Homo sapiens: one gene and its partners. The protein of the gene in region 3 interacts with the protein of the main gene of each other region in a pairwise test. Each region holds a gene or a part of one and is shown on either strand. Other genes may lie near its edges. The genes, in order: CARTPT, ASPG and CEACAM6.

Region 1 (9,999 bases), on a different chromosome or scaffold from region 3:
TCATACATCCACAAGGAAATAAATTCTGCCGATAGGAAGCATGAGGTTTTTAGATGTTCAAGGTATGGTAAAGACATTCGAGGACTAGGAAAGGGCATGAACAAAGGCAGACACATGTGTAGTCATTAGTGTTGTTCCATAATGTTTGCATTCTAGGTACTTGTTAACACTGTAATTCTTAGTCCTTTTGACTTTGGTGGAGCTGTGTGATTACTTCAGGCTAATGAGTTGGAAGGAAAAGTGAAGTATCACTTATGAGTCAAAGCTTTTAGTTGTTCATTAAAGACTGTCCAGAACTCTTTTTTCCATTTGGAACAAAATTAGCCACTTTAGAGATGGTGGATGATCTGTCAGTCTGGGTCCCTGAGTGACGATGAATAGAACAAACTCTTTTTTCCATTTGGAACAAAATTAGCCACTTTAGAGATGGTAGATGGTCTGTCAGTCTGGATCCCTGAGTGACGATGAATAGAACACTCCATCAATTCTTGATGCACATGGGACACGAGTGAGAAATATAACTGCATATTTTTTAAGTCACCAAGATTTGGGAGTTGTTTGTTGTAGCAGCATAACCTAGTAAATTCGGTGCAAAATTAAGAAATAAGGCTGATGTACCTACAAAGTAAAATATATCTGATGGAACTGGTTGGGAGCAGAGAAAAATGAGATTAGAAATATGGCCAGAGCCATATTATAAGAAACTTCAACACCATGCTGAGAAGTTGACTTGAACCTATAGACAATGAACAATCACTGAATGATTCAAAATTGCTCCCTATTAAGTCATATAGTTAATTTCTTGGGTATTCTAATCAGCTGCTTTAGTGCTAGTTTTACACTTTCTGTAAGCTTAGGAGATCTGGATCTGGAAAAGTTAGAGGAGAAGATGGTGTTAGCGGTGGCATGTAAAGTGTGGTTTTGGCATGCCACCCCTGCCGCACTCCAACAAGGTGTGCTGTGCTGGGATCCAGATAAATGTTTCCTTGTCCTAGGAAACAATCTATCTCTTGGTCAGTGCTATCTCCCTATATCTGAAAAGGACCACTTTTCTCAGGCTAGACCTTTAGGTTAAAAGCTTGTTTTTAGTATTTGAAAAATGAAATCTTTTGGGTTCATCTGTGCTCCTACCACCTGTTTATTGGATCCAAATTTGGAACTATCTATTGCCACTCTGGATTTTCTTTTTGTGCTCCAAAGTTCCTTTTCAGGCTTGTTTCCCATTATGCTTCCCCGTCTCTCACATTCCCATGCACCCTGCTCTCCAGCAACCCAGAGCACTCAGTGCTCCCCAGATCTCCTACCTTGATGACTTGACTTTGCTGCCTGCCCGCCCCCAAGGTCCCAGAGTGGGATGTTTGCTATTGTTGGAATTCTACCCATCCCCTAGGACTCAGTAGCTCATTCAAAGGATGCCCCTTTTTCACGAAGATTCCCTCTTGTGGCAATGAATCTCTGACTTCTCTGGGCTCCTCTTTCTCTAGTAGGACCCTCATCTCACTAAGTCATTGTATTTTAGGAGTTTGTGGACGTGGGCACAAATGACTAGACCCAAAGATCCTCAAGGCAAGAAGTGTCTGGATTATCTCAGCAGTCCTCAAAATACTTAGCAGAGTTGTGAGCATATAGGGCACCCAGATTTTAAAATTAAGTCTTGAAATGGAAAGCTTTTCAATTGGAAGCTTAAAAAATTGACTGAAAAGCTTTGTTTAATTTCGCCTGCTTTGCTCCTTCAGAAGCAGTCTGTAAAGCACATGTTCTTTGCTACTGCATCTCCACCCCTCCCAATTTAGAACCGACTCCAAGTGTCCTTTACTTACAGATTATTTTCTTTCAGATAGTGATAAAGATGTTTAGTTAGAACACAGTGAATAGCAGTTCCTTTGGAAGGCTATGGCTTGGAAGTAAACAGAACATAAATGTCAATGGGAATTAATCTCTCTTCTGCAGGGAGGAAGAGTGGAGAGCAAACAATGTAGAAATGAAAAAAAGTCACCCAAGAGATTGCATATGTGTACCAAAGAGAACAGAGTGATGTTTAACTTGGAGGAAAGTGCAACTAACACAAATAAGGAGAAACAGTCTTAAATATGAATATTTAGGAAGTCAATAAAACTGAGGACTTACCAAAATTTAAATTGAAATTTTAAATTTTTATTTTATTTTTGTCACAGGGGCTCACTTTGTCACCCAAGCTGGAGTGCAGTGGTGGTGTGATCATGGCTCATTGCAACCTCAACTTCTTGAGCCCAATTAATCCTCCTACCTCAGCCTCCTGAGTAGCTGGGACTACAGGCATGTGCCACCACTTCTGACTAATTTTTTTTTTCTTTTCTTTTTTTTTTTCTTTTGTAGATATGTGGTTTCACCATGTTGACCAGACTGTTTTTTTGTTTTGTTTTGTTTTGTTTTGTTTTTGAGACAGAGCCTCGCTTTGTCACCTAGGCTGGAGTGTAGTGGTGTGATCTCAGCTCACTGCAATCTCTGCCCTGCTGGGTTCAAGTAATTCTCCTGCCTCAGCCTCCCAAGTAGCTGGGATTACAGGTGCATGCCACCACACCTGGCTAATTTGTGTATTTTTAGTAGAGATGGGGTTTTGCCATGTTGGCCAGGCTGATCTCAAACTCCTGACCTCAGGTGATCCACCTGCCTTGGCCTCCCAAAGTGCTGGGATTACGGGCGTGAGCCATTGTGCCCAGCCAGACCAGACTGGTCTTGAACTTTTGAGCTCAAATAATCCTCTTGCCTCGGCCTTCCAAAGTGTTAGGATTACAGGTGTAAGCCACTGCACCTCGCTGAAATTGAGGATGTTTTACTGTTGAACAAGACTTGGTTGGGGTGAGGGATGGGAGAGGAGGGTTAATGGTTAACAAAGTAGTCTGATATTTGGGAAATACGACAACCTAAGAGGCCAGTGTTATTCTGAGTTACATAGGAACAGAAATTATTCACAACTGAAGGAGAAAGGAAGGGAGAGAGAAATACTAAAGCTTAGGAAAAAACATCACTGTGGTGTTAAATTCTGCCATGACCTTCTCATTACTTAAAATCTTAGGGCTCTAGGGTTCTAATTTAGTAATATTGAACACATATGTTTTAAGGGGTGTGTGTGTGTGTTTTCTTTTTTCCAAGAACAATACAGACATCGTTTTCTTGCCAAGTCACAAATCAATTGATGGGTTATTTTTATAGTGAAAAGTTCAGGACTCCAAGAGTTAGGCATGAGTAAGAAGAGGTTTTTAAAATGTTCTCAGATAGCAGTATGTTGTAAGTAGATCTTGCTGGCACTGGTTTCTTGGCTGTCTGCTTATGAGATTTCTTTACTTGAGCTATTTCAAAGAGCAGGACTGGAGGCCTACTCTATCTCAGAAAAGATGATTAAGAGAGATTTGTTCACATTAAATCTCCAAAGACCCATCCTGGCCATTGCTTCTCTTTCATGAGGTGACCTGCCTCCCTTTTCTATATCTGGGGTGAGAAGTAGTAGTTAAATTCCATATGATTTTAATTGCTTGGGGCATCAGTGATGGGCTTTTTTCCCCTAATGGAGTCATTACAAAGTAGTAAGAATATACAAATTCTCCTAACAGGGCATAATATGAAGACTGTGGAATGTCTCATGCTTTTGTTTCTTTTTGAGTTTTAACTTACATAAAAGTTGTCTTTGGGAAGAAGATAGCCTAGAATTTACTATACCATGCTAGCTAAAGACAGTTTATAAAGTCATTCTGTTCAAGATGAAGAAAAGCCTGTGGTATGTAAGTGACAAAGATGCCCCTGGCTTGTTTCACAGGATTTTCCAAGAGTCCTTTCCCTAACCCCTTAACTAAATGTGCCTTCCTTATAAGAAAATGATAGCACCAACTCAAGTTCAGCAAGATTTAAACTTTGGATTTTTTTCCAATAGAAGTAGCACAAAGGGAAAGTTATTACTTGTGTCTGGGTAGAACAAAATTGGAGAGAAAGTATTGCATTGACAATATCTACATCCTTCAGGAAGAATAGGCTAAAATCTTATTTGAGATTATTTTTCTTCTGAAGCTTAGAATAGTTTAAAGATCACTGGAGATGGTTTTTGCAGTGAGTGTCAATATGTCTCTGTAAGGTTTTAACAGTAAAACGTGCTGCCACTGAAGTTTTCTTGTGCAGAATCAAAAGGTATGTGTGGAAGGCAGAGCTGAGGGAGGTGTTAGATACATTTTCAAGTTGGGTTTACCCCACAGCAAAATATTTTGATGCTGTTAATATGTGTGCTATTCATTAGAAGAGATATCACTTCTTGAATTGCTTCCCAGTGAGTATTTGAGTACCAATTAAATACTTGATAGTTGAAGTAACCAGGCATATATTGTGTATTAAACTATCTTAATGACCCACATAATCTGCTATGCAATAAATTTGTGGGAGAAAAGTATTGATAGATGGTTTGGATTGAGTAGTCATAGATATTTACACTGAGATTTAAATAACAGAAGTAGTGAGCCTTTTGGAAATACAGGAAGACCTTTCAAGGAGGGGTAAGTGCAAAGACATCAAAGTATGAATGAGATTGGCCTGCTAGAGGACCAGAAAGAAGGCCATGTGAGGTTGGAGTGGAGGAGTCTGGGGCAGAGTGGTAGAACATGAGGTGGAGAGGGGTGAAGATCATATAATGCTTTGCAAGTCAGGATGAGGAATCTAGATTCAGTGCTTAGTAAGATTAGGAGTCATTAGTGTATTTTAAGGGGAAAAATACTCTGGTTGGTGGTGAACTATGGAGTAGAGGAAGGCAAGAGAAGATAGGGTGGGGATTAAGTGGTAGACATTAAGTTGACTGGGGCAGCTGTCTAGGACTGGGTTGTAGTAATGGGGATGGAGAAGAGTGGATGAATTTAGGAACAGTTGAGGGAAAGATGGTGTGGTGAAGGAAGCCAGGTGAGCAAGCAGGTCTAAGCGGGAAAGCATTGCTTTTCCTACAGGAATTTTCCTGTGCATTCAGGCTGTAAGGATCTCAACTTTTAAAAAAGCCACATTGTTCTCCCAAGTTGTTGGGGAGCTGGTTCACCATTGACTTCTGATCTCTGGAGATATTTTCATAATCATGGAGCTGTCTTTCTTTTCACTCTTTTACTCTCTTTCTAGACAGGCTTCTTGGATACCAAGGGTTGGTGGTGGGTGGGGGGAGGTTCTGGGGATGGTTAAATTTGCCTGGGCAGCCTCAAAGTTCAAAAAGGAGGGACAGGGAAGCTTAGCTAAGAACCAGGAGTTTGACATACTTAATCTCTCATTTCATCCTACTGATGACTTTGTGAGGTATATCTTTTTAATCCTAGATCTACAAAAGAGAAAGCTGAGGCTTGGAGAGGTTCTTCATTTTGTTCAAAGTCATACAACTTTTACGTGGTGTAGCCAGGATGGGAACCAGAGCCTGGCTCTCTGCACTTCCAACACCACTGCTGAATCCGGGTTTGTCTGTTTTCCCTCTCTTCTTTTAACTATTGTCACACAGATTCCATCATAGAACCCATCACGTGGAGGGCCACTATTTCTCTTTCTTTTGTATAGTATGTTTGCTTCCCCTACCCCACAGAGTAAGGTGCTCAGCAAATGTGGCTGTCTGGAGGCAACACCCCCTTCTCACCGCCACACTTGGGGTTGGGGTGCGAGGCAAGGCAGGGCTGGCGAGGTGGATGTTGCAGCTGTCACCACTGCTAGGTGTTGGGAAACGACTCTCCTGCCTGTGCATTGACCCGAAGGCATTTTCCATTTCCTAGGCCCCTCCCGCTTCCCGTCCCTCACCTCTAGCCCCTCGGCTTCAGCTCAGGCCCCTCGGGGAGCATCCCTTGCCGTGAGACTGACAGCCTTTGGGGGCGCAGGGTCCTGTTCTCTGCGCTCTAGCCCATCTGTGCGCAGAGCCTCGTTCCCAGGCGCCTGGAACCCGGCGGGCATTGACGTCAAGCGCCGGCGGAGCGCTGCCTACAGACGGTTGACCCGGGCCCTCCTCCACACCCCCTTCCTTCTTCGCCTCCTCCCTCTTTCCTGCACGGGGGCTCGGGCTCACTATAAAAGGTGGGAGCGCGTGGTGCCCCAGCAACGACGAGTTTCAGAACGATGGAGAGCTCCCGCGTGAGGCTGCTGCCCCTCCTGGGCGCCGCCCTGCTGCTGATGCTACCTCTGTTGGGTACCCGTGCCCAGGAGGACGCCGAGCTCCAGCCCCGAGCCCTGGACATCTACTCTGCCGTGGATGATGCCTCCCACGAGAAGGAGCTGGTCGGTATTCCCCTCGCTCTCGACCCCCTTGAGCTGTCGCCTTGTCTCTTCTCTTGCACGCCTCCCTCCTCCCCCCACCCCCACTCCTATTCCCAGAGTCAGGGCGCGGGGAGCTGAGCGCAACGCCCAGGCACCCACTGCCATCCGAAGAGCGTCTCGAGCTCACGGGCTCCTGGCAGTCTGTTGAGCGAATCCCTCATCCCGGCCCCTCTGAGCAACAGGGACCCCAGCGGCTCAGAGACCCGCGGTCAGTACCTGGGACAGCGTCCGCTAAGTTTCCACCCCTCGACCATTCCCTGTGTCCGCGGAGTCCCACCGCAGAGTGCGTGTGGGTCCGGGGCTCCTTATAACTAGGGCTGGAAGTGCGCACCTGGGCTGGGCTCGCAGCCAAGGCGGCAACTTCAGGCTCCGAAGCGGTGTGTTGCAGATCGAAGCGCTGCAAGAAGTCTTGAAGAAGCTCAAGAGTAAACGTGTTCCCATCTATGAGAAGAAGTATGGCCAAGTCCCCATGGTAAGGTTTGTGGTCACTCCCTTCCCGTGTTTTTCCAAGAGAAAGTACACCGCCTTGAATCGTACACACAGTCTTCTCCGTAGGATGTGGCTAAATAACTTAGGTAATGGGCTTGCAGGATTCTGTGGGCTCCTTCTTCCTTCCCGGGTGAGGAAATGGGAAAGCAGGAACAGGGGTTGTAAGAAAGTGTAAGTCTATTGTTTGTTGCTCAGGAAAAAGGTCTGATTTTTTTCCCCTCTGAGAGGGCAAGAAAAGGAGCCAGGAAATGTGATGCTCCCCTTCCCACGCCCCCCAACCCTCGCCACTTAAAGGTGGAAGAAACTAGGATAAAACTAATAATGTAAGTTTCTTTAAAAAATGTACTCTCACTGAGGTTATAAGCACAAGGCTCCCTGTTTCAGATCTGACTGTACGTAGACCTCTTGTGATGGTGATGGGGTCCAATTGCCCCTTTCAAGAGACAGAAATTGCGTTGACTGTGAGACTTGCCTGTTGGGAACCTGGGTTTGTTCATACTCGATGACCACACATTTTGTTGTTTCAGTGTGACGCCGGTGAGCAGTGTGCAGTGAGGAAAGGGGCAAGGATCGGGAAGCTGTGTGACTGTCCCCGAGGAACCTCCTGCAATTCCTTCCTCCTGAAGTGCTTATGAAGGGGCGTCCATTCTCCTCCATACATCCCCATCCCTCTACTTTCCCCAGAGGACCACACCTTCCTCCCTGGAGTTTGGCTTAAGCAACAGATAAAGTTTTTATTTTCCTCTGAAGGGAAAGGGCTCTTTTCCTGCTGTTTCAAAAATAAAAGAACACATTAGATGTTACTGTGTGAAGAATAATGCCTTGTATGGTGTTGATACGTGTGTGAAGTATTCTTATTTTATTTGTCTGACAAACTCTTGTGTACCTTTGTGTAAAGAAGGGAAGCTTTGTTTGAAAATTGTATTTTTGTATGTGGCATGGCAGAATGAAAATTAGATCTAGCTAATCTCGGTAGATGTCATTACAACCTGGAAAATAAATCACCCTAAGTGACACAAATTGAAGCATGTACAAATTATACATAATAAAGTGTTTTTAATAATTGCCCATAGTGCACTGCTGTTTTCATATAAGTAATTTAAGTGGAAATGGTGAGATTAATCATGCTGTTGTTTTCAAAGAAAAATATTTTAAAAATAGCAGCCTATTGGGAAAATGGCACCTTAGCTCCAAGGAGTTTTGATCGTTAATTAGAAGTTTGCCAAGCCAGTTTTAGTATACTCTATTTTTCTTTGATTGCAGCGATGTGGTGTGTGTATGTGTGTGTGTATGTGTGTGTGTGTGTGTGTGTGAGAGAGAGAGAGAGAAAGAGAGAGATGAATGAGATGGAGATGGTTGGAGTTGAGGTTATATAATTTTGTTTATTAAAACCTTTAGCCAGACCCTTTACTTTAAACAGTGAGACCAATAAACTATAAACAGTTTCATGTTTTAGTCACATTAAAAGCAATTTGAAAAATTAGAAATTTTGTTTTGACAACTCCCTTATTAGAAAATATACATTGATTTAAAGATATGGGCTGTTTAGGGTTGTTATTTGTCTAAAGACTCCAAGGTTATAAGACCCATTCATTCCCACAAGTAAATTCACACTCTTGGAAAAAATTCTCTATTCCAGGAGAAAGAGTCATTTCAGAAAATAGTTTTGAGGGGAACAAATAAAAATTGGAGGAGGTGAGAATTCAACTCAAGAAATTAAAACATATTAAATGTAAAGTTAAGTAGCTTTTAAATATTTCTGAGTGCTTATTTGAGGTCACATTTCCAAGGGTTTAAACCAGACTAAGTAACATCTAAGTAGCAGCATCATGAGAGAAATAAATGTTAACAGCTTCCTAATCCAAACTCAAGAGGCACTTGCATAATAGCAGAATTGAAAAATAAAGCCCCTCCACGGATTCATAGGGAGTTTTCTGATAGAAAATATTCTTATACACAGTTACCATTTTCAGTGTGATTATTATTATTAGCATGCCTAATCTTGCAAGATAGATATTATTACTATTTTTCAGAGTAGAAAACAGAGGGCAAGAGAATTATGGAATTTGCTTACACCATATAATCCTAAATAATAATTTTAGCTGTAATCCCTTTGACTCCAAAGATTTGTCCTTTTTCTCCATGTCACTTAGGCAATCAACAGACTGGGCTTTGAATTCCCCAGAAAGCACATCTTTCCTTAATAAAAATTGCTCACTGGGGGCCAAGGTGTATTTTTTGGGGCTGTGTTTCCGTTTGAATTCCCCTACACAAGCCTATATGTGATTAGAATGTGGTATTTTTGTTTGTTTCTTTTCTTTTCTTTTCTTTTTTTTTTTTTTTTTGAGACAGGGTCTCACTCTGTCACCCAGGCTGAAGTGCAGTGGCACAATTACGGCTCACTGCAGCTTCGATCTCCCAGGCTCAAGTGATCCTCCCACCTCAGGCTTCTAAGTAGCTTGGACCACAAGCATGCACCACCATGCCTGGCTAACTTTTGTATTTTTAGTAGAGACGGAGCTTCGCCATGTTGTCCAGGCTGATCTCAAACTCCTGGGCTTAAGCGATCTGCCCACCTTGGCCTCCCAAAGTGCTGGGATTACAGGCGCGACACACGTCGCCCAGGCAGAATGGGATATGTTTTAATTTTTAATAAGTGCAAGTAGTTATTTAATAGTTTCACAGTCTGCTACTTTTCCAGAAATCATTTCAGTTAGAATATTCTTGAGCCCCTTAACTATTCCTATCTATCACTCCTAAATAAGTCAGATCAGGAAATTGCTTTAGTGAACAGGCAGTACCGTCAGGGCTAACACACAGAACTGCTTTCTCTCCTTATTATTTTTTTTAGAGACAAGGTCTCACTCTGTTGCCTAGGCTGGAGTGCAGTGGTGCCATCCTGGCTCACTGCAGACTCAAATTCCTGGGCTTAAGGAAACCTCCCACCTCAGCCTCCCAAGTAGCTAGGACTATAGATGCACACAACCACACCTGGCTGATTTTTTAAAATTAATTTTTGGAGAGATGGGGTCTTGCTTTATTGCCCAGGCTAGGTCTTGACCTCCTGGGCTCAGGCAATCCTGCCTCTGCCTTCCAAAGCACTGAAATTACAGGTATGAGCCATCACACCTGGCCAGAACTGCTTTCCCTTTTAGCCTGGTGTGTTTCCCCAAAAGCAAGAGATGCTGGAGGAATCTGGAGTTCAAAGAAAAGAATATAAAC
Region 2 (9,783 bases), on a different chromosome or scaffold from region 3:
TTTCTTTCTTTTTTCTTTTTCTTCTCCTTTCTTCCTTTTTTTTTTTTTTTTTTTTTTTTTTTGAGGCAGAGTCTCACTCTGTTGCCCAGGCTGGAGTACAGTGATGCCATCTCGACTCACTGCAACCTCCACCCACCCGGCTCAAGCAATTCTCCTGCCTTAGCCTCCCGAGTAGCCGGGATTACAGGCATGCACCACCACACCTAGCTAATTTTTTATTTTTAGTAGAGACGGGGTTTCGCCATGTTAGCAAGGCAAGTGAACCACCCGCCTTGGCCTCCCAAAGTGTTGGAATTACAGGCCTGAGCCACCATGTCTGGCCAAACGTTCCTTTTTCAAACCTATACTGTCGCCAGTAAAGTTTTCTTACCAACCTGCGAGTGGACCACTTTCCAACTCTGGGGCTCCAGCACTCACCCCGCAGTCAATGTGTTGTACGTCAGCAGCCATTCTAACAGGTATGTAGTGGCATCAGTTTTTTTTGTTTGTTTGAGACAGGGTCTCACTCTGTCACTCAGGCTGGAGTGCAGTGGCGAGATCTCGGCTCACTGCAACCTCCACCTCCTGGGTTCAAGCGATTCTCATGCCTCAGCCTCCCCAGTAGCTGGGACCACAGGCATCTGCCACCACATCTGGCTAATTTTTTTTTTGTATTTTTAGTAGAGACAGGGTTTCACCATGTTGTCCATGGCTGGTCTTGAACTCCCGATCTCAAGTGATCCACCCACCTCAGCCTCCCAAAGTGCTGGGATTACAGGTGTGAGCCACCGCGCCCAGTCAGCTGGGGCAATTTCTTTTGTTATTTTAAATAAACACCAGCTTTCAGCCGGGCACGGTGGCGGGCGCCTGTAGTCCCAGCTACTCGGGAGGCTGAGGCAGGAGAATGGTGTGAACCCGGGAGGCAGAGCTTGCAGTGAGCTGAGATCGCGCCACTGCACTCCAGTCTGGGCGACAGAGTGAGACTCCATCTCAAAAAAATAAAAATAAATAAAAAATAAACAAACACCGGCTTTCACACCTAACTATGATTTTGTAACTTGTATTACTTTTCTCAATGAGGGCCCTCCAAAAGCTTCAAGGGCTGCAGAATCTGAACCCTCCAGCCCTGCCTGGAACCTCTTCCTTGGCCCATCCAGGCAGGTGCCTGAGTTTGCTGGTGACTTGGAAACTCCTCAGCCCCCTGCCAAACACCTGGAAAGGAGGCTTTGCTCTCTAAGACAATGGGCCCCACTGTCACCAGCGAAGTCAAGCTTAGGCTTAGAAACTTGTGAACGTGTAGCACCCATTCAGGAAGGAGGTCCAGGCCAAGGGCACAGACGCCACTGCAGTAACCAAGAAGCCATGGGCATCACTCCACTGACACTCTCGACTGCTGGGACCCGTGTGGTCACCGGGCAGGGAGCTTCTCTCAGCTGCCTGGCCCCAGATCTCTGCCCTCCCTGCTGTGCCTGCAAGGAGCCGGGCTCAGGAGGGACTTTGGGACAGGCCGGCAAGCAGGTGGGGTTCCCAGTTTGACATAGGAAGTCTTCAAGTTTCTCGGGTGTACAGAACGTGGCCACTGATGCCAGCTTGGGCTTGGGGTTATCAGCCGTGTTTGGATTCGCTATGCCCCTTGACCTGTGATAGCTTCAATGAACTCAGAGAAGGGATGGGTCAAGGGGCGTCCCCACTGGCATCACCTCTGCCCTCCCTGAACTCTGGCAGGGCTCCAGGTGTGCAGCGTTCCACCCACAGGTCACTGTTTACCAGCAGGCGCAGAAGCCGTTCCAACAGCGACAATCAAACAGCTTTACTAGGGCAAAGCCACCACTCCCCTCTCACCTCCCCAGGGAAGGCCAGAGCCCACGTCAGCAGTGTGGAGGGAGTAAATCATTGACGCCTGACAGTCTGGCTGCTCCAACCTCACGAGGGGTTGGGGGAGCCCATTCCTGCAGGTTCCTGGAAGTGGATGCCCCACATGGGTCAGCTAGCAACAGCTGGGGGTGACCTCGCAGCCACACGAGGACGGGCTGCTGAGCAGAAGCCAGGACCCCAGTGCACAGAGCACCAAGGGATCTCAGAAGGCTGCTTCAGGTCTGAAGACTGACGCCCCACACCCAATTTCCAGCCTCCAAGTCTCTTGTTTCCCACCCAGACACAGGACCTCACAGCCTCTTTCAGAAATGCGGTGCACGCGTGTGAGTGCACCCACAGGCTGCTGCGGCGAGCACGCGGGGGCCAAGCGAGACGGGTGTGTGGTGGGGTTACAGAGTCCACCTGCCCCTGCAGCTCGGACCACTCAAGAACTACATGTTGAGCTCAACGAAACTGCAGTTGGCCACACTCCAAGCCTGAAGGGGTAGCGTCAGGGGCGTCGGACGAGGCCCCACACAGAGTCCCCAGGTCCTGTCCCCACTCGGGGGCAGCTCTGGCAGGCTCCGGCCCTGCTGGGCTCCCCACTCCTCTTTCCTGCACCTTGCAGGGCTGCTCCTGGCCTGGCCCTCTCCCATCTTTGTCCTGCAGGCCTTGTGTCCTCAGAGAAGCCCTCCCTGGGCTGCCTCCAAACTCCACACCATCCACACACCCAGCTCAGACCCTGTTATCAGCCCACAGCCCCTACAGGGCCCTGGCAGATCCTGCCCCTGGGACTAGCTCCTTAATGCATGCCATCCCTTCAATGGCAGCCTCTCTCTCTAGCTTGTGAGGGCCAAGCACAGGAATTGTGTCACTCTGTGTCAGTGGAGTGTCACACAGGGGCGTTTGCCAAGCTGTGAATGACTTTGTTCCATTCACAGGCAGAAGGAGAAGTGCAGAGGAGGCTCCCGGCAGCCTGGACAGCCACGTTCTTGGGGACCTGAGTCCCTCGTGGACGAGCCCCACTAGGCTTTGTCTCCTGGGCTGGGCGCAGAGTGGGCCTCCAGAGGGGTCTGCACCGGCCACAGTGTGGTGGGTGGAATCTGAGAGCACCGACAGAGTGCTGGTGGCTTCTGAGCAGCCACTTCAGCAGAAAGGGGTGGCCAGGAGGGGCAGCTGCCAGGGAACAGGCCGTGAGAGGGGGTGGGGATAGGAGGGGCGGGGAAGTGGTTGGCAGATGGGCAAGGGACAAGAGAATGTTCTGGTCATGCCAGGGGAGGCCCTGGGCTCTGGCAGAGCCGGAGAGGGTCCCAGCCGTCCCAGGAGAGAGAGCTGCGCTGGACACAAGCAGGAGTGTGGGGAGGGGCCAGGGCAGCAGGGAGTGGGAGGAGGAGGAGTGGAAAGGGCTCCTGAGGGAAAGGCAGGCAGTGGCCCATGGAGGGTCGCAAACAGGTTCAAGACGGGGCGAGGGGGCTGTCCTGGCCCCAAGGGAGGCCCCACATCACAGCAGAGCCCATCTGGGGGCCCCAGGCAGTGTCCTGCCCTCCTGGGGAACACCCAGGCATTCTGGAGGCTCCAGTGCAACCGTCCTCTCCCCATCCCGGTGGCCTCAGGCTCCCCAAGCTACCATCCTTCCTGTGCCCAGCCCAGGCTGGCAGCACTGTGCTGGAGTACCACAGAGCTCGGTGCCTGTCCCAGGCCCTGACCCCACCCAGGCAGAACTCAGTCCAGACGCAATCGCTGGTCTCTGGTCAACCAGGTCCACACAGGGGCAGAGGAAGCAGGGCTCTGAGGCCACCTCGGGTGTGAACACGTGCGTCCCCGCAGATGCCAGGTAGCCCCAGTATCGTGCCAACCACTGCTGCCTGACCAGGACCCCAGGGGACGGGGACACCCTCCTGGGTGTCGCAGTTGAGGGGTCCTCGCAGCCTCCTAAGCCTTCTCCAGGGCAGCCTCCTAAGCCTTCTGTGTCCAGAGCAGGAGCGGCAGGCCAATGCCCTGGGGCCCTCCCGCCCCATATTCCAGGACTTCAGGACGCTGGCCCTCAGGGGCGCAGCGGCAGCACAGGGGGCCTGGCCCCAGGGTCGCAGGGCGCTCCCGGGAGCACCGCGACGGCGAGAACCCACCGCAATCTCCTCTGTCCAGGTCGGGGCTCCATGCGTGGGGACGCCGGTGGCCGGAACCGGAGGAGAGCGACCTCAGCCCGCACCCCCCATCCAGGCGCGGATTTGACTCCCCAACGACCCCCGTGGGTGCAGGAGGGTCCGAGGCTCCCGGTCGCGGCCAGGTCCAGAGGCCTACCCCGCCCAGGGTCTCGGACTCACCGCCGAGCTCACTCCGCATGCCAATGGTGCCGCCGGTGTAGACGGCCAGCAGCCTCCGCTCGGGCCCCACCGCGCGCGCCATGCCGGACCGGGGACCACGGGAGTGGACGGGGGTGTGCAGCGGGGACGCAGGGCCTGCGGGACTCAGGGACTGCGCGGAGGAGGCCCGGGGCGCCGGGGGCAGCCTGGGAGGGCGGGGCCGGCGGGGGCACCCACGGGGAGGGGGCGGGAGTGGAGTCTGCCCGGGAGGGTGGGAGGCCCCGCGGAGGCGGGCGGGGGCAGGACCTGGGGGCGGGGTGGGTCCCGGGGACTGTCCAGGGTCGGAGAGAGAGGCGGGGCCTGGCGGGGTGGGGGCGGGGCCTGGCGGGGTGCGGGGCGGGGCCTGGCGGGGTGCGGGGCGGGGCCTGGCGGGGTGCGGGGCGGGGCCTGGCGGGGTGCGGGGCGGGGCGCGGCCTTGGAAACGTGTAGGAAGAGGTGAGGTCTGTGAGGGCGGCAGGGGGAGCTCCTGCCTGGGCAGGAGATTGGCTGGGGCCTGCTTGGGGCTGGGGAGCGCCTGTCCAGGGACTAGGGGGCAGCCAGAAAGGCAGCGACAGGGGTGGGGCGGGTCCTGAGCCATCCTGCGGCCATTGGCCCTCCGTGGCGGCCCTGGGTGTTTGAGTAGCTGTGACATGTGGTGCCTGGCAGACCGTAGTGCCCGAGGCCCTCCACGACCTGAGCACAGAGGGGGCTCCGTGTCCTGTCAAGCAGCCTCCACAGCCCCGGGGCTCCAAGGCCGGCATTGCTGCCCAGGCCCTGCTGTCCCTCCTTTGGATGGCCAGAGGCAGGCAGAGCTGGACCAGCCCCTCCACATGTGCCCATTCACACACCATCCAAGAGAAGAGCCCGAGGGGCCCCCAAGGGCTGGAGCGGGACAGAGCAGGAGTATGGCCTTCTTGGACAAACACCGCCATTTTAGGTTCCCTTTGATTAAAAAGCTGCCTAAATCCAGCCCAAAACACATCAGCCCAATAGCTAATGTCAGCACGACCGTAAACCACAAATAACATCTCCAATCAGAAACATGCCAACCTCGAGATAACCTCCCCTCCGACCAGAGACATTCCAAGCCCGCAATAAACTTTCCCTCACATAGAAACATTCCGAGCCTGCGATAAGCTCCCCACTTCCTAAACCCTTAAAGATCCTTAGTCTGTAGGAGAGATGGCTCCTGACCAAAATCGGCCAGAAGTCCCTTTCAGGTTTATTCTCCAAAATAAACCTGCCTTTGTTGAGCCGCTTTTCATGTTTCTTTCCTCTTTCTTTAACTCCTACAGAGCCCACCCTCCTTCACTCCCATGAGAGCCCAGGAGGGCAGGGCACTGGCGGGTGCAGGGTCCCAGGAGGGTCCCAAGCTGCAGGCTTGCTCCCAGGTGGACAGAAGATCCGCGGCCTCCTCGTCTCCTGGCACCTTGACTGCCTGGGGCACTGATGCACTTTGGTGGGAAACTGTGTGTTGCCCCCAGAAGGCACCAGCATTTGACACTGATTCCATAATAAAAATTATTATTATTCTGTTGCCTGGAGGGCAGTAGCAAGATCTTGGCTCACTGCAACCTGTGCCTCCCAGGTTCAAGCAATTGTCTTGTCTCAGCCCCCTCCCCGAATAGCTGGGATTGCAGGTGCACACCACACCAGGCTAATTTTTTTTTCTTTTTTTTTTTTTGTATTTTTAGTAGAGACGGGGTTTCACCATGTTGGCCAGGCTGGTCTTGAACTCCTGACCTCAGGTACTCCACCCACCTCAGCCTCCCTAAGTGTTGGGATTACAGGTGTGAGCCGCCATGCCCAGCCCCATATAATTATTTTGATAACAACAGTGCAATAGTGCAAAAGTAATCTTGTCTGCAGAGAAGCAAAGGCATTCTGCCCAGCAAAGGTCTGTGTTAGTTTTCTGGGACTGCAGTAACAGAACGAGTGATTTACAGTGCAAGGAGGTCTACCTCTCACAGTTCTTGGGGGTGGAAGTCTAAGGTCAGGGTGTCACAGGTTGGTGTCTCCTGGGCAAGCAGATGGTGCCTTCTTGCTGTGCCTCACAGGGTCTTTCCTCTGAGCAGTCACGCATCCCTGATGTATCTCCAGATGTCCAGACTTTCTCTTTTTATAGACATACCAGTCAGATTGAATTTGGGGCCTCATTTTAATTCAACCATCTCTTTAAAGTCTACCTCCAAATACAGTTGCATTCTAAGACACTGGGGTGTGGGGGACTTGAACATTAGAATCTAAGGGAGACAATCCAGCCCATCACAGCCCCCTGAAAATCCAGTTTCAGGTCCATTTGCACAATCATGTCAATATTCCTCATCTGTAAGTGTCTGTTTCAGGACTTCTCTTCTGAGCTGGTCCTCACAGCTGCCTGGGCTAGGGAAGCTCTTCGACGCATGCTCACCCTGCATCCCTGTGAGCACCATGTCTGGCCCTTTCGGGAATCATCCTTTAACAACCCGCCTGCTACCATAAATTCTAGGAAAACTTGTCTGGGGCCAGGGCAGCCTTCACTGGCAATAATCCTCACTGGAGTGGCTTTTCTCCCAGGTGCAAGGAGCCCCATCAGGTTTCTGCTGCTGAAACCTTGCAAGCACCAGGACTCGACGCTGCAGCTTCACCTGAAGACACTGCCGGTCTTTGGACGAATCCACTGTCCTGCTTTGCTTTTGTCTGCGTCCACCTACATCTACAGCGTCCTTGGACGGAATCTTTCATGCAATATATGTTGAAGGCTGGCTCTGTGCCAGATGCCTCTCTAGGCACAGGGGACGCAGCCCGTCCTTCTGAGTGTACCAGCCAGGGTGGGGGCCATAGTAGACAAAAATACCAGCGTCTGGCAGTGACAGTGCCTGGAGGAACACTCAGGGAACACGGAGACAGGCAGTGCTGTTTACAACAGGGTGGCCAGGGAAGGCCTCTCCGAAGGGTTGGCATTGGAGCAAAGCCAGCATGCCAGGCGGGACAGGCTGCCAGGAAGGGACAGGTGCTGAGGCCCGAGGCAGGAGTGAGCATGGCCCCACAGTGCCCAGGTCAGTGGGGCGAGAGCACTCAGAGGGAGGGGATGCCCGCTGAGTGACTGTGGTGCCACGCAAGGACTTTCAATTTAACCCCAAAGGTGAACACCAGCCCCACCGAGGGTTGGGCTGGTTTGTTTTAATCTCTGGCTGCTATGTGCGGAGACTGAGACAAGAATGGGTTCAGGAGGGCTTTGGGCAGGGTGGGGAGGAGCTGGGGATGGGGAAGTGCAAGGTGGGAGTGCTGGGAGCACAAGCTGGAGCTTGAGGGGTACGCGCCGAAGAGAAAGGGTGACTCTCCTGTCTTTGGCCAGAGCAGCCACGGAGTGGGGATGTCCTTACTGAGAAAGCAGGGGCCAGAGTGGGGCCTGGGGCCAGGCAGAGGGAAGCAAGGTGTGTTGGACACATCCTGCTTGGGGGCCACCTGGGCAGGTCCAAGGAGACTCAGCTGCGCGTCCTGCAGTCAGTGGCACAGGGACCACAAAGTCGTGACAGCAGCGAGGTGTCAGCAGAGACAAAGGCCCTAGTCTGAGCCTCAGCATTCTGGCCTCAGAGGCCAGGAGGAGGAGAGAACCCAGGACCGCGAGGGGAGAAGGCCAGTAAGTGATCTTCACGTGAAGTCCCGGGGCTTGGTGAGGGGAGGCCAGAAGCTGGCCACGGTGGAGCAAGGTGGAGGGTGCTGCGGCCTCACCCCGGGTGAGTGGCGTGGAGGGGCAAACGTCTGTCCCCCTGGAGGGACACTTGGCCATCGCTGTGCTGCCTGCTGCTGAAGGAAGGGCTCCCCACCAGGGGCTGGGTTAGGAAGGTGTGGGGTGTGCCAGTCGCTCCCTGGCTCCTGGCCCCCTGGCTCCCCAGGCAGTGTAGTGCCAGGAGGTGAGTCCAGGGAACCTAGGCAGCCCCAGCCAAGTCCCCACGTTCTGCCTGCCCCTCCTTTATTTTTGATTGTTCAGAAAAGTGTTTCCTTGGCCACCCAGGGGTCTCCTCGTCCCCTCTTCTCTCTCACTTCCCATCTACACCCTCCCCAGTGGCCCTCCTTCCACACAGCGCAGGAGAGTTCTGGGTGGGACCCTCCCAGAGTGTTTATAAAATCCACTCCGGCCCCAGCCCCACCCAGAGCAGAGCGGAGGGACATCTGCCATTTGACAGTGCCCGGTGGTCCGGACCACCCTACAGCCCTGCCTACCTTTTCTGCAGCCCTGCCTGTCTTTTCTGCATCTCTTCTTCTAGAGCAGGGTGCTCAGAGCGTGGCCTCCGCTCCAGCAGCAGCACCTGGAACCTGTGGAAATGCAAAGCCCAGGCCCCTGACAACAACTCCGCGTGGGGCCCAGGAGTCCAGACTCTGACCCCGCTCTGGGTGATGCTGATACAGGTGCACATTTGGGAACCACTGGTCTCGAACAAAGGCCGGCAAACCAGGGCTCGACGGCCAGGCCTGGCGCACCTGTGTGTGTAAACACAGTTTTCTTGGAACAGCCACACCCACTCATTTATGTATTGTGTTGGGGAGGTGCCAGGTGGCAGGCCCCCGTGGCCATGCCATGGCTGGCCTTCCAGAGGCAGAGGGGCAGGAGGAAGTGCCTGGGTGCCGAGCAAGGGGCCGCAGGAATGCCACACGTACTCCTGTCTGTCCTCAGCCACTAACTGGGGCAGGCCTTGGTCCAGGGTGGTCACCTCCACCCTGAGGCTGGGGGGCCTCAGGTCACAAGCTCTGCTCTCCCAGTCCCCAGCTCCACACAAACAAGCCAAGACTCCTGGAGGCAAGGCGCAGTGCTGAGGCCACTGGCGAGGTACACGGTGCCCCCCTGGGTTCTGGCCGTGGCAGCAGGCCTGGGCAGGGAGGCCCTGGGAGCCCACCTTCTTCAGCCGCTCAGGCGTCGTCTGTTGCCCTACACTGTGAGTCTTCATGGTACTGCCTATGGGCCAGGCGCTGTTGCAGCCACCCTGCAAATCCAGGCACATTTCACCCCTGTGACCACACCGAGGCAGAGGATAACTGTCCTATTTGGCGAGTGAGGGGCCTGAGGCACACAGTGCGTCCCACGGCAGGCAAGCGCTGGCACTGGGCTTGTGGACACCACAGGAGTTCCTGACACTGTGTTGAAGCAGGCTGGCCCGGCCTGGGCCAGTGTGCTGGAGGGGAACAGAGGTGTGTGGGGACCCCAGAGAGAGGAAGCCTAAGAAACTTTCCGACAGGGAAAGGAGTCTTGGGGCCTGGGCAGGGAACTGCAGAGAGCTGGGGCATCTTCGGCAGAAGGTTGGACCCCAGGGGAGTGTGGGAAAGCACTGAAGGGTCACTCTATGAGCTATGATCGCACCACTGCACTCCAGCCTGGTAATAGACCGAGCCCGTCTCATAAATAAATAAGGGCAAAGGACTTGAACAGACATTTCTCCAAAGATGATATACACTTGGCCAAGAAGCATACGAGAAATGCTCAACATCACTAATTATCAGGGACATGCAAAGCAAAGCCACGTGGTGTCCCCACTCACCCTTTGGGATGGCTACTATCAAAAAAAAAAAAAAAACAGAAAATAAGTGTTTGCAAGGATGTGGAGACATTGGAATTCTGGTGCACTGCTGG
Region 3 (9,792 bases):
GGTGCCACACACGGCAATCTTCTCTCTGTTTTCTGCACAGCGGAGCTGCCCAAGCCCTCGGTCACCAGCAACAACTCCAACCCTGTAGAGTTTTCTACATATAAGTTTAAGTTATCTGTGAACAGAGATAATTTTACTTCTTTCCGATTTGGATGTCTGTTTATTTGTTTGTTTGCTGCCTAATTTCTCCAGCTAGGACTTAAAACACTATGTTGAAGAGAAGTGGGGCAAGCAGGCATCCTTGTCTTGCTCCTGGTCTTACAGGGAAAGCTTTCAGTCTTTCTCCATTGAGTATCCCTCTATTATGTTGAGGTGGTTTCCTTCCATTCACAGAGTGTTTTTATTTATAAAAGAATGTTGAATTTTGTCAAATGCTTTTATTGGCTAAATCTTATTACTAATTATAGGTCTATTCAGATTTTTTTGTGTGTTCCAGGAATTTGTCCGTTTCATCTAGGTTATCCAATTTGTTGGCATACAATTATTTACCGCACTCTTTTAATCTTTATTATTTCTGTAGAATTGGTAGCAATGTCATCAATTTTTTTGAGAGTAGGTCTCACTCTGTAACCCAACCCAAGCTGGAGTGCAGTGGCTTGATCATAGCTTACTTGCAGGCTGAACCCCCTGGGCTCAAGTGATCCTCCTACCTCAGCCTCCTGAGTAGCTGGGACTACAGGCATATGCCATCATGCCTGGCTAGTTTAAAAAAAAAAAAATGTGGAGACTGTGTCGCCCTATGTTGCATAGGCTGGTCATGACTTTCTGGCCTCAAGCAACCCTCATCCTCTGACCTACCAGGGTGCTGGAATTAAAGGTGTGAGCCACCATGCCCCCATTTTCATTTCTGATTTTAGTAATCTGAATCTTCTCTTTTTTTCTCAGTCAACCTAGTAAATGATTGTCAATTTTGTTGATCTGTTTTGAAGAACCAACTTTTGGTTTCATTGACTCCCTTTATTGTTTTTATAGCCTCCATTTTATTTATTTCAGTTATAATTCTTATTGTTTCCTTCATTCACTATCTTTGGGTTGATTTTGTTCTTTTTCTATATCCTGAATTTGTAAAGTTAGGTTGTTGATTTGAGGTCTCTCTTTAATGTAAGTATTTACCACTATCAATTTCTTGCACAAGATTCTTAACTTCTCTGAGCCTTCAATTCTTCAACTGAAAATTGCAATAATTCTCATCACTAAGAAATGGGTGGAAAAAATGAAAATTGAAATAACAATGCCTGTTTCATAGTATCGTTTTGAAGATTTAATGTAACATTTGATTAAGCCTTCAGCAAAATGCCACACACAAAGAAAAGCTTCACAAATATTAGCTATTATTATTACTACTGTTACCATTAACCTTAAAGTCAGGTAGTCCTAGAGTCAAATTCTAAATCCACTTGTCACTAACCATGTGACTTTGGATAAGTTTTCTCATCACCCTAAGCCTCTGTCTTTTCATCTGTAAAATGGAAATAATGTCTACCCAAGAGAGTTACTGTATAAATCAAATGAGATACAGGTAAAGTATTTAGCACAGGGCCTGGTATCTAGGACATGCCCCTCAACAGTAGCTAACCTAGCATTAACCATCGCACTGAGATGACTGGTGAGGGCTAAGCACCAAATGGAAACTCACTAGGACATGGTTACTGGCTAAACATGGGAGAGAGGAAAAACAGTGCAAAGAATCAAGCCTGGTATGTTAGCTTTCATCCACTGAGATGCAGCCAAGATGGGATTAGAGGTACAAGATAATTCACTGGGTAAAACAGCCATGAGGGAAGGTGGAGCAGCAGTGACAGGAGAGCCTAAGAGAGCCCTCAGACCACGATGCAGATCTCATTCCTGAGAAGGAGAAAGAGAAGGAGGGAAGTTTTACATAGCAGTGCAGTTCTGAGTTTCCCCAAGACCGATGGGGAGTCCTTGAACCCCTCACCCATGAGAGTGAAGCAGGGTCTCACAGACCTGGGCTTGCTTTCTTTCCCCTGGTGGGAGCCCATGGGAAGTGAGTTCTCTGTGCAAAGAACATAGTAAATTCAGAATGCACTAGCCTGGGCCTTCTGTCCATCAAGTCCCTGCCATAGAGCTCCAACAGGCTCTTATTCATGGCTGCCACAATTGAGACACTGAGAAAAAGATGCAAACATAAAAATATAGAAAGTTCTAATGACATGCAAAAATAGCAATCAGACTTTCTCAAATTTTCAAAGCCTTCAAAAATGTCTGAGTGCAGAAAGAACAGGATGAAATTGACAGAAGACTGATCACCAACCTAGAAACGTGGTAAGAGAGAAAAAAAATTGCAACTTTCCCACAAAACTAGTGTATTCCTTGAAGGAACAAGTCAAGCCTACTTCATGTTGACAGCTAGTTCTTGGGGACCCCACTGTAGAATAACATCACCTTCATTCCTTCTCTCTTCTTCCCACAAGGAAGTGCTCCTGTCCTCTCAGCTGTGGCCACCGTCGGCATCACGATTGGAGTGCTGGCCAGGGTGGCTCTGATATAGCAGCCCTGGTGTATTTTCGATATTTCAGGAAGACTGGCAGGTATGATCGCCTTTCCTCTTGCCATGTTTCCTGCAGGGCTGACCACCATGCTTGGGAAAGGAAAAAAACTTCTTCACCTGTATCTGGGACTGGATCTCCTTCTACCGCTAAACTCCTGCTTCTCAGCACTAATTCCTGCAGGTCTCTTCTTCCCTGGTCTTCATGCTCCCTGTACCCCACTGTCTCCTAGATATAATTATCCCCAGCCTCTGCTCATTTGTTTCCTAGAGTCAATACATTGTCAAAGCCTCTTCGTCCTTTTTCAACATCTCTCACTTTTGTCAGTCTCTCCATTCCCATCAACCTCAATAATTGTTCAACATCCTGCTTGACCCCTTGTTGTAAGGTTGGAATCCTTCTTGCATATGACTGCCTCATTACCTTCCTAAAATCTAGTTCACTCACCTACTTAAGGAGCCAAAGGGGGCCAGGCACAGTGGCTTATGCCTGTAATCCCAGCCCCTTGGGAGGCCGAGGTGGGCGGATCATGAGGTCAGGAGATACAGACCATCCTGGATAACACAGTGAAACCCCGTCTCTAGTAAAAATACAAAAAATTATTCAGGCATGGTGGCGAGCACCTGTAGTCCCAGCTACTCGGGAGGCTGAGGCAGGAGAATGGCGTGAACCTGGGAGGTGGAGCTTGCAGTGAGCCGAGATCGTGCCACTGCACTCCAGCCTGGGCGACAGTGCAAGACTCCGTCTCAAAAAAAAAAAAAAAAAAAAGAAGCCAAAGGAACCTGCTCTGGCCTACTAGTTAAGTTCAAATTTCTTCTCTTTACTAATTCTTCTTACTTTCTTTCCCTCTACTTCCCAGTATAATTCCTCCATCTTAATTAGAATCTGACTCTCTACACATCCCTGCCCCTTTACCCCGGATGCACATAGAATTCTTAGTTTCAATGTTACACCTAAAAACAGGGTGATCTCCCCTCCACTACCTGCCCTGTGGACTTACTCACACCCTTCATCACAAGCAACCTCTTATTTCATGGAGAACACAGACTGTGTAGTATTAATATGTGAACTTTGGACACATCCTGCATGTGGCTGAGAACCTTTTCCTGACAATCAATTCATGTGTTCATAACAGATACAGAAATGAAGAAGGCAAGGTCCCTACCCCCAGGGAACATAAAGCCCAAGACAGGAGATAAGACCTGAAAAATAATCATGATACCAAAGTAGAAAGGAGCGAATGCCACAAAAATTCAGATAAATCTGATGGGAAATATAGCTACACATTGGAATCACTCCGAAACATTTTTAAAAACGGATGCTCAAGCCCCAACCATAAATTCTGATCTACTGATCTGGAGTGGGACCCAGGCATTGGTAATTTTTAAGCCTCTCCAGACGCTACTAATGTGTAGCCACGATGGAGGATCCCTGTTCTAATAGGTAGGACTTGGGGCTAAACCCATGGTTTTTAGCTAGGAGGATTAGAATTACCTCTGGAGCTTTTTCAACATACATGGGCCTATACTTTGTTGGCCTAATTCATTAATGGGCTCCACCAAGAACTCAGTAATCTAACTGAGAAACAGAAACTAAAAGGAAAAGCCGCCTTATTTGATATGTTACATTATATGGGAAGCACTGTCAAATGATAAGTGATGCTAAACCTTCTCTAAGTTATATTTATGGTTATGTTATTGATGTGAGTGTTCCAAAAATTATAAGAGATTCCCAGAAATCTAACAGATTATAAGCCATAATGTCATATGCCACAGAAGTAACTAAATGTCTATGGGAGATGCATTCTTTTTTTATTTTTATTTTTATTTATTTTTATTTTTTTTTATTGATCATTCTTGGGTGTTTCTCGCAGAGGGGGATTTGGCAGGGTCATAGGACAATAGTGGAGGGAAGGTCAGCAGATAAACAAGTGAACAAAGAAACAAGTGAACAAAGGTCTCTGGTTTTCCTAGGCAGAGGACCCTGCGGCCTTCCGCAGTGTTTGTGTCCCTGGGTACTTGAGATTAGGGAGTGGTGATGACTCTTAACGAGCATGCTGCCTTCAAGGATCTGTTTAACAAAGCACATCTTGTACCGCCCTTAATCCATTTAACCCTGAGTGGACACAGCACATGTTTCAGAGAGCACAAGTTTGGGGGTAAGGTCACAGTTCAACAGGATCCCAAGGCAGAAGAATTTTTCTTAGTACAGAACAAAATGAAAAGTCTCCCATGTCTACTTCTTTCTACACAGACACGGCAACCATCCGATTTCTCAATCTTTTCCCCACCTTTCCCCCTTTTCTATTCCACAAAACTGCCATTGTCATCATGGCCCGTTCTCAATGAGCTGTTGGGTACACCTCCCAGACGGGGTGGTGGCCAGGCAGAGGGGCTCCTCACTTCCCAGTAGGGGCGGCCGGGCAGAGGCGCCCCTCACCTCCCAGACGGGGCGGCTGGCCGGGCGGGGGGCTGACCCCCCCACCTCCCTCCCGGACGGGGCGGCTGGCCGGGCAGAGGGGCTCCTCACTTCCCAGTAGGGGCGGCCGGGCAGAGGCGCCCCTCACCTGGGAGATGCATTCTTATCATAATGAACTCTCATCAGATGTTTAACCATACTCATTTTCAATCTTTGTCATTCACTGACAATTGTTTTTTGTTTTGTTTTGTTTGGTGGGGGGGTTGTTTTTTGTTTTTGTTTTTGTTTTGAGATGGAGTTTCACTAGTTGCCCAGGCTGAAGTGCAATGGCGTGATTTCGGCTCACCGCAACCTCTGCCTCCTGGGTTCAAGCGATTCTCCTGCCTCAGCCCCCTGCACAGCTGGGATTACAGGCATGCGTCACCATGCCCGGCTAATTTTGTATTTTTAGTAGAGACGGGGTTTCTCCATGGTGATAAGGCTGGTCTCGAACTCCTGACTTCAGGTGATCCACCCGCCTCAGCCTCCCAAAGTGCTCGGATTACAGGCATGAACCACCGCGCCCAGCCCCGACAATTATTTTGATTCTTCCTTCCTTAAAGCATTTGCAATCAGCTACCATCCAAAATTGCTTCTTCATTGAGGATATTTACAGAAAATACTCCGACATGTACTCTTGAATACAAGTTTCTGATAACATTAAAATCATACCATTAGACTATTTAAGAATTTCCAAAATTTTAACAAACTGATAGCTTCATGAAACTGCCAACCAAGAGCAAGCAGAGAATTCATTTCATGAGACTAAAAGATAATAATGAAAATAATATTTTTATGATTTTTTATTTGAAATTTTGTGGATTCTTTGTTTTGTTTCCCAGATTTCAGGAAACATTTTTTCTTTTAAGCTATCTAGAGCTTCAACAATTTTGCGAACAAAAATTGAAACATCTATATTTTCTCCCTACCTGACTGCTCCAGAATTCGGAAATTATTCATGAATATTTATATGTTTATAATAATATCGTTATTTGCACAAAAAATATAGTTATTAATATTAATTGTTATAAAATAATTATTATTGATAAACAATTATTTGATGATCATTATTTAATAATTTATTAATATTTATTAATAAATTAATAATTATTATTTAACGACTAATTGTAATTGTTAATTAATATTAATATTATATAATAAATATAATAGTATAGTTATTTGCTCAATAAAAATCTGCTCCCTTTATAACAGGATACATTTGAAAACACTGGTTATATTACCCAGGCTTTGATTGGGATGTTATATTTGGGAATATACATAGATGAACCCATAGGCACTGCTGGCAAAGTCTGAAGTCGGCCTTGGTTTGGCTTCCTCATGTCAAGAGGTTTCTAAAAGTTTAATCTGAGATTCCTTATAAAAACTTCCTGTAAAACAAACTTGAAAAGACCCCAGGCTGGGCACAGTAGCTCACGTCGATAATCCCAGCACTTTGGGAGGCCGAGGTGGGTGAATCATGAGATCAGGAGTTCAAGACCAGCCTGGCCAACATGGCAAAACCTCGTCTCTGCTAAAAATACAAAAAAAAAAAAAAAAAAAAAGCTAGGTGTGGTGGCGGGCTCCTGTAATCCCAGTTACTCGGGAGGCTGAGGCAGGAGAATCACTTAAACCTGGGAGGTAGAGGCTGCAGTGAGCTGCGCTCCAGCCTGGGAGTGCATACATAGGCCTATACTATTCATGTGCGTACATGGGCCTATACTATTCATGTGCATACATAGGGCTATACATAGGCCTATACTCCTATTCAAGGAGAATCGCTTGAACTTGGGAGGTGGAGGTTGCAGTGAGCTGCACTCCAACCTGGGCAACAGGGCAAGACTCTGTCTCAAAAGGAAAAAAAAAAGACTATGTGGTCACCTGCTACTCTTGTTGCACTTATATAAAGAATGAGGCCAAGTTCGATGAGACTAAACTTATTTGGAAAACAAATATGTCTTACTGGGATTATCTTTGGTAGAAATAAAGATGCCTATGAAGAGAAAAATTATGTTGAAAAAAACTATAGTACACCTGTTATGACATCACAGCTCTGCTTATTGTTTTTTATTTTCATTATCCACCTATAGATTGGACCAGACCCTGAATTCTTCTAGCTCCTCCAATCCCATTTTATCCCATGGAACCACTAAAAACAAGGTCTGCTCTGCTCCTGAAGCCCTATATGCTGGAGATGGACAACTCAATGAAAATTTAAAGGGAAAACCCTCAGGCCTGAGGTGTGTGCCACTCAGAGACTTCACCTAACTAGAGACAGTCAAACTGCAAACCATGGTGAGAAATTGACGACTTCACACTATGGACAGCTTTTCCCAAGATGTCAAAACAAGACTCCTCATCATGATAAGGCTCTTACCCCCTTTTAATTTGTCCTTGCTTATGCCTGCCTCTTTCGCTTGGCAGGATGATGCTGTCATTAGTATTTCACAAGAAGTAGCTTCAGAGGGTAACTTAACAGAGTGTCAGATCTATCTTGTCAATCCCAACGTTTTACATAAAATAAGAGATCCTTTAGTGCACCCAGTGACTGACATTAGCAGCATCTTTAACACAGCCGTGTGTTCAAATGTACAGTGGTCCTTTTCAGAGTTGGACTTCTAGACTCACCTGTTCTCACTCCCTGTTTTAATTCAACCCAGCCATGCAATGCCAAATAATAGAATTGCTCCCTACCAGCTGAACAGGGAGGAGTCTGTGCAGTTTCTGACACTTGTTGTTGAACATGGCTAAATACAATGGGTATCGCTGAGACTAAGTTGTAGAAATTAACAAATGTGCTGCTTGGTTAAAATGGCTACACTCATCTGACTCATTCTTTATTCTATTTTAGTTGGTTTGTATCTTGCCTAAGGTGCGTAGTCCAACTCTTGGTATTACCCTCCTAATAGTCATACTAGTAGTCATACTCCCTGGTGTAGTGTATTCTCTAAAAGCTTTAAATGTCTGCATGCAGCCAGCCATCAAATAGTGAATGGTCTCTCTTTGGCTGGAATTACAAAACTCAGAGAAATGTGTCATCAGGAGAACATCATAACCCATGAAGGATAAAAGCCCCAAATGGTGGTAACTGATAATAGCACTAATGCTTTAAGATTTGGTCACACTCTCACCTAGGTGAGCGCATTGAGCCAGTGGTGCTAAATGCTACATACTCCAACTGAAATGTTAAGGAAGAAGATAGATCCAATTAAAAAAAATTAAAACCAATTTAAAAAAAAAAAGAACACAGGAGATTCCAGTCTACTTGAGTTAGCATAATACAGAAGTCCCCTCTACTTTAACTTTTACAAAAAAGTAACCTGAACTAATCTGATGTTAACCAATGTATTTATTTCTGTGGTTCTGTTTCCTTGTTCCAATTTGACAAAACCCACTGTTCTTGTATTGTATTGCCCAGGGGGAGCTATCACTGTACTTGTAGAGTGGTGCTGCTTTAATTCATAAATCACAAATAAAAGCCAATTAGCTCTATAACTAAATTTGTTGTAATTCTGTCTCTTGATGTGGGTTCACAGCCAGCCACGGCCAGTGGAGTCTCTCAGGCGGCGTCATTCTCACTCCGACCCTCCTGCCTTCCTCTTTCACTTACAAGGGCCCTTCTGAATACACTGAGCTCGCCCAGATTATCCAGAATAACCTCCCATCTCAAGATCCTTAACTTTACTTATTTGCAAAGTATTTTTGCCAAATAATGTAACATGCACATGTTCCAGGGATTAGGATGTGGACATTTTTAGGAGGTCATTATTCTGCCTAACACAAGTAACTTTCATAAACATCACCCACAACAAAAATTTGCTTTGCCTTCCTTCTGTGTCTCACCTTTCTGCCTGAATCACAGGCCAGAGCACAAACTTCAAGGTGAAACACACCAGCTCTGCTGTGAACTGCCTGGATGATCCTGGACCACTCACTTCACCTCCCACAGTCTCTTCTCATTTGCAGCACAAGGATGACACTTACTGCATCAGAAAATGACAGTGCAAGAGTAAATTAAGATACTAAACACAGAGCGTGGTACCTGATGAGCCCTCGGTAAACATTCCTTTCAGTCTCTTCCTTTCAACATCCTGTTTCTTTCACCCTCACCCATCTGCCCTTTCATCTTCTTTCTCTTCAGCAACTTACACAGTCTACCCTACCAGTTAGCAAAGAAGCCAGCTACCCATTCTCTCTTGATTCTGCTGGAATGTTCTTGTGATAGAGCCTGCTATCTACTCAAGAAAGCCCACATTATTTATATGGAGAGGTCTGTTTAGAACAAGAGGTCCTTTTTATGTTCGCATAAAATGTGTACATATGGCCGGGTGCAATGGCTCACGCCTGTAATCCCAGCACTCTGAGAGGCCGAGGCGGGCAGATCACCTGAGGTCAGGAGGTCGAGAACAGCCTGGTCAACATAGTAAAACCCCGTCTCCACTAAAAATACAAAAATTAGCTGGGCGTAGTGGTGGGTGCCTGTAATCCCAGCTACTCGGGAGGCTGAGACAGGAGAATTGCTTGAGCCCAGGAGGCAGAGGTTGCAGTGAGCCAAGATCACGCCACTGCACTCAAGCCTGGGCAACAAAGAGTGAAATTCTGTCTCAAAAAAAAAAAAAAATTTATACCTATGTCCCCTTAACTTACACATACCCATCCCAATTCTGCCCTGTTAATTTATATGTGCACTTCCTTATTCATTCTTCTTTAGTCTTTCTCTTTATACCTTATAATCTAGGATAGCACAGAGACAAAACTAATGACCCAGGCCACAAGAGGGGATTTTTTTTTTAGCAAGACGAATGCTTTCCATTAAAAAAAATCAATGCTT

What was found.
Region 1: the proteins of CEACAM6 (region 3) and CARTPT interact in binary tests that used the Homo sapiens proteins (3 or more experiments, as listed by UniProt).
Region 2: the proteins of CEACAM6 (region 3) and ASPG interact in binary tests that used the Homo sapiens proteins (3 or more experiments, as listed by UniProt).

What each region holds. Positions count from the first base shown.
Region 1 is NC_000005.10:71,713,204-71,723,202, forward strand, and holds CARTPT (cocaine- and amphetamine-regulated transcript protein preproprotein), read left to right. Parts: upstream 1-6,071; 5' UTR 6,072-6,090; coding exon 6,091-6,249; intron 6,250-6,676; coding exon 6,677-6,760; intron 6,761-7,304; coding exon 7,305-7,412; 3' UTR 7,413-7,842; downstream 7,843-9,999. UniProt on the Homo sapiens protein: Satiety factor closely associated with the actions of leptin and neuropeptide Y; this anorectic peptide inhibits both normal and starvation-induced feeding and completely blocks the feeding response induced by neuropeptide Y and regulated by leptin in the hypothalamus.
Region 2 is NC_000014.9:104,080,227-104,090,009, reverse strand, and holds the start of ASPG (60 kDa lysophospholipase), read right to left. Parts: upstream 4,311-9,783; 5' UTR 4,240-4,310; coding exon 4,158-4,239; intron 1-4,157. Other genes in the region: uncharacterized protein LOC124903408, read right to left, coding at 7,075-7,150, 8,382-9,157. UniProt on the Homo sapiens protein: Exhibits lysophospholipase, transacylase, PAF acetylhydrolase and asparaginase activities.
Region 3 is NC_000019.10:41,763,751-41,773,542, forward strand, and holds the end of CEACAM6 (cell adhesion molecule CEACAM6 preproprotein), read left to right. Parts: intron 1-2,432; coding exon 2,433-2,509; 3' UTR 2,510-2,549; intron 2,550-7,051; coding exon of another isoform or gene 7,052-7,068; 3' UTR 7,069-8,461; downstream 8,462-9,792. UniProt on the Homo sapiens protein: Cell surface glycoprotein that plays a role in cell adhesion and tumor progression. Intercellular adhesion occurs in a calcium- and fibronectin-independent manner.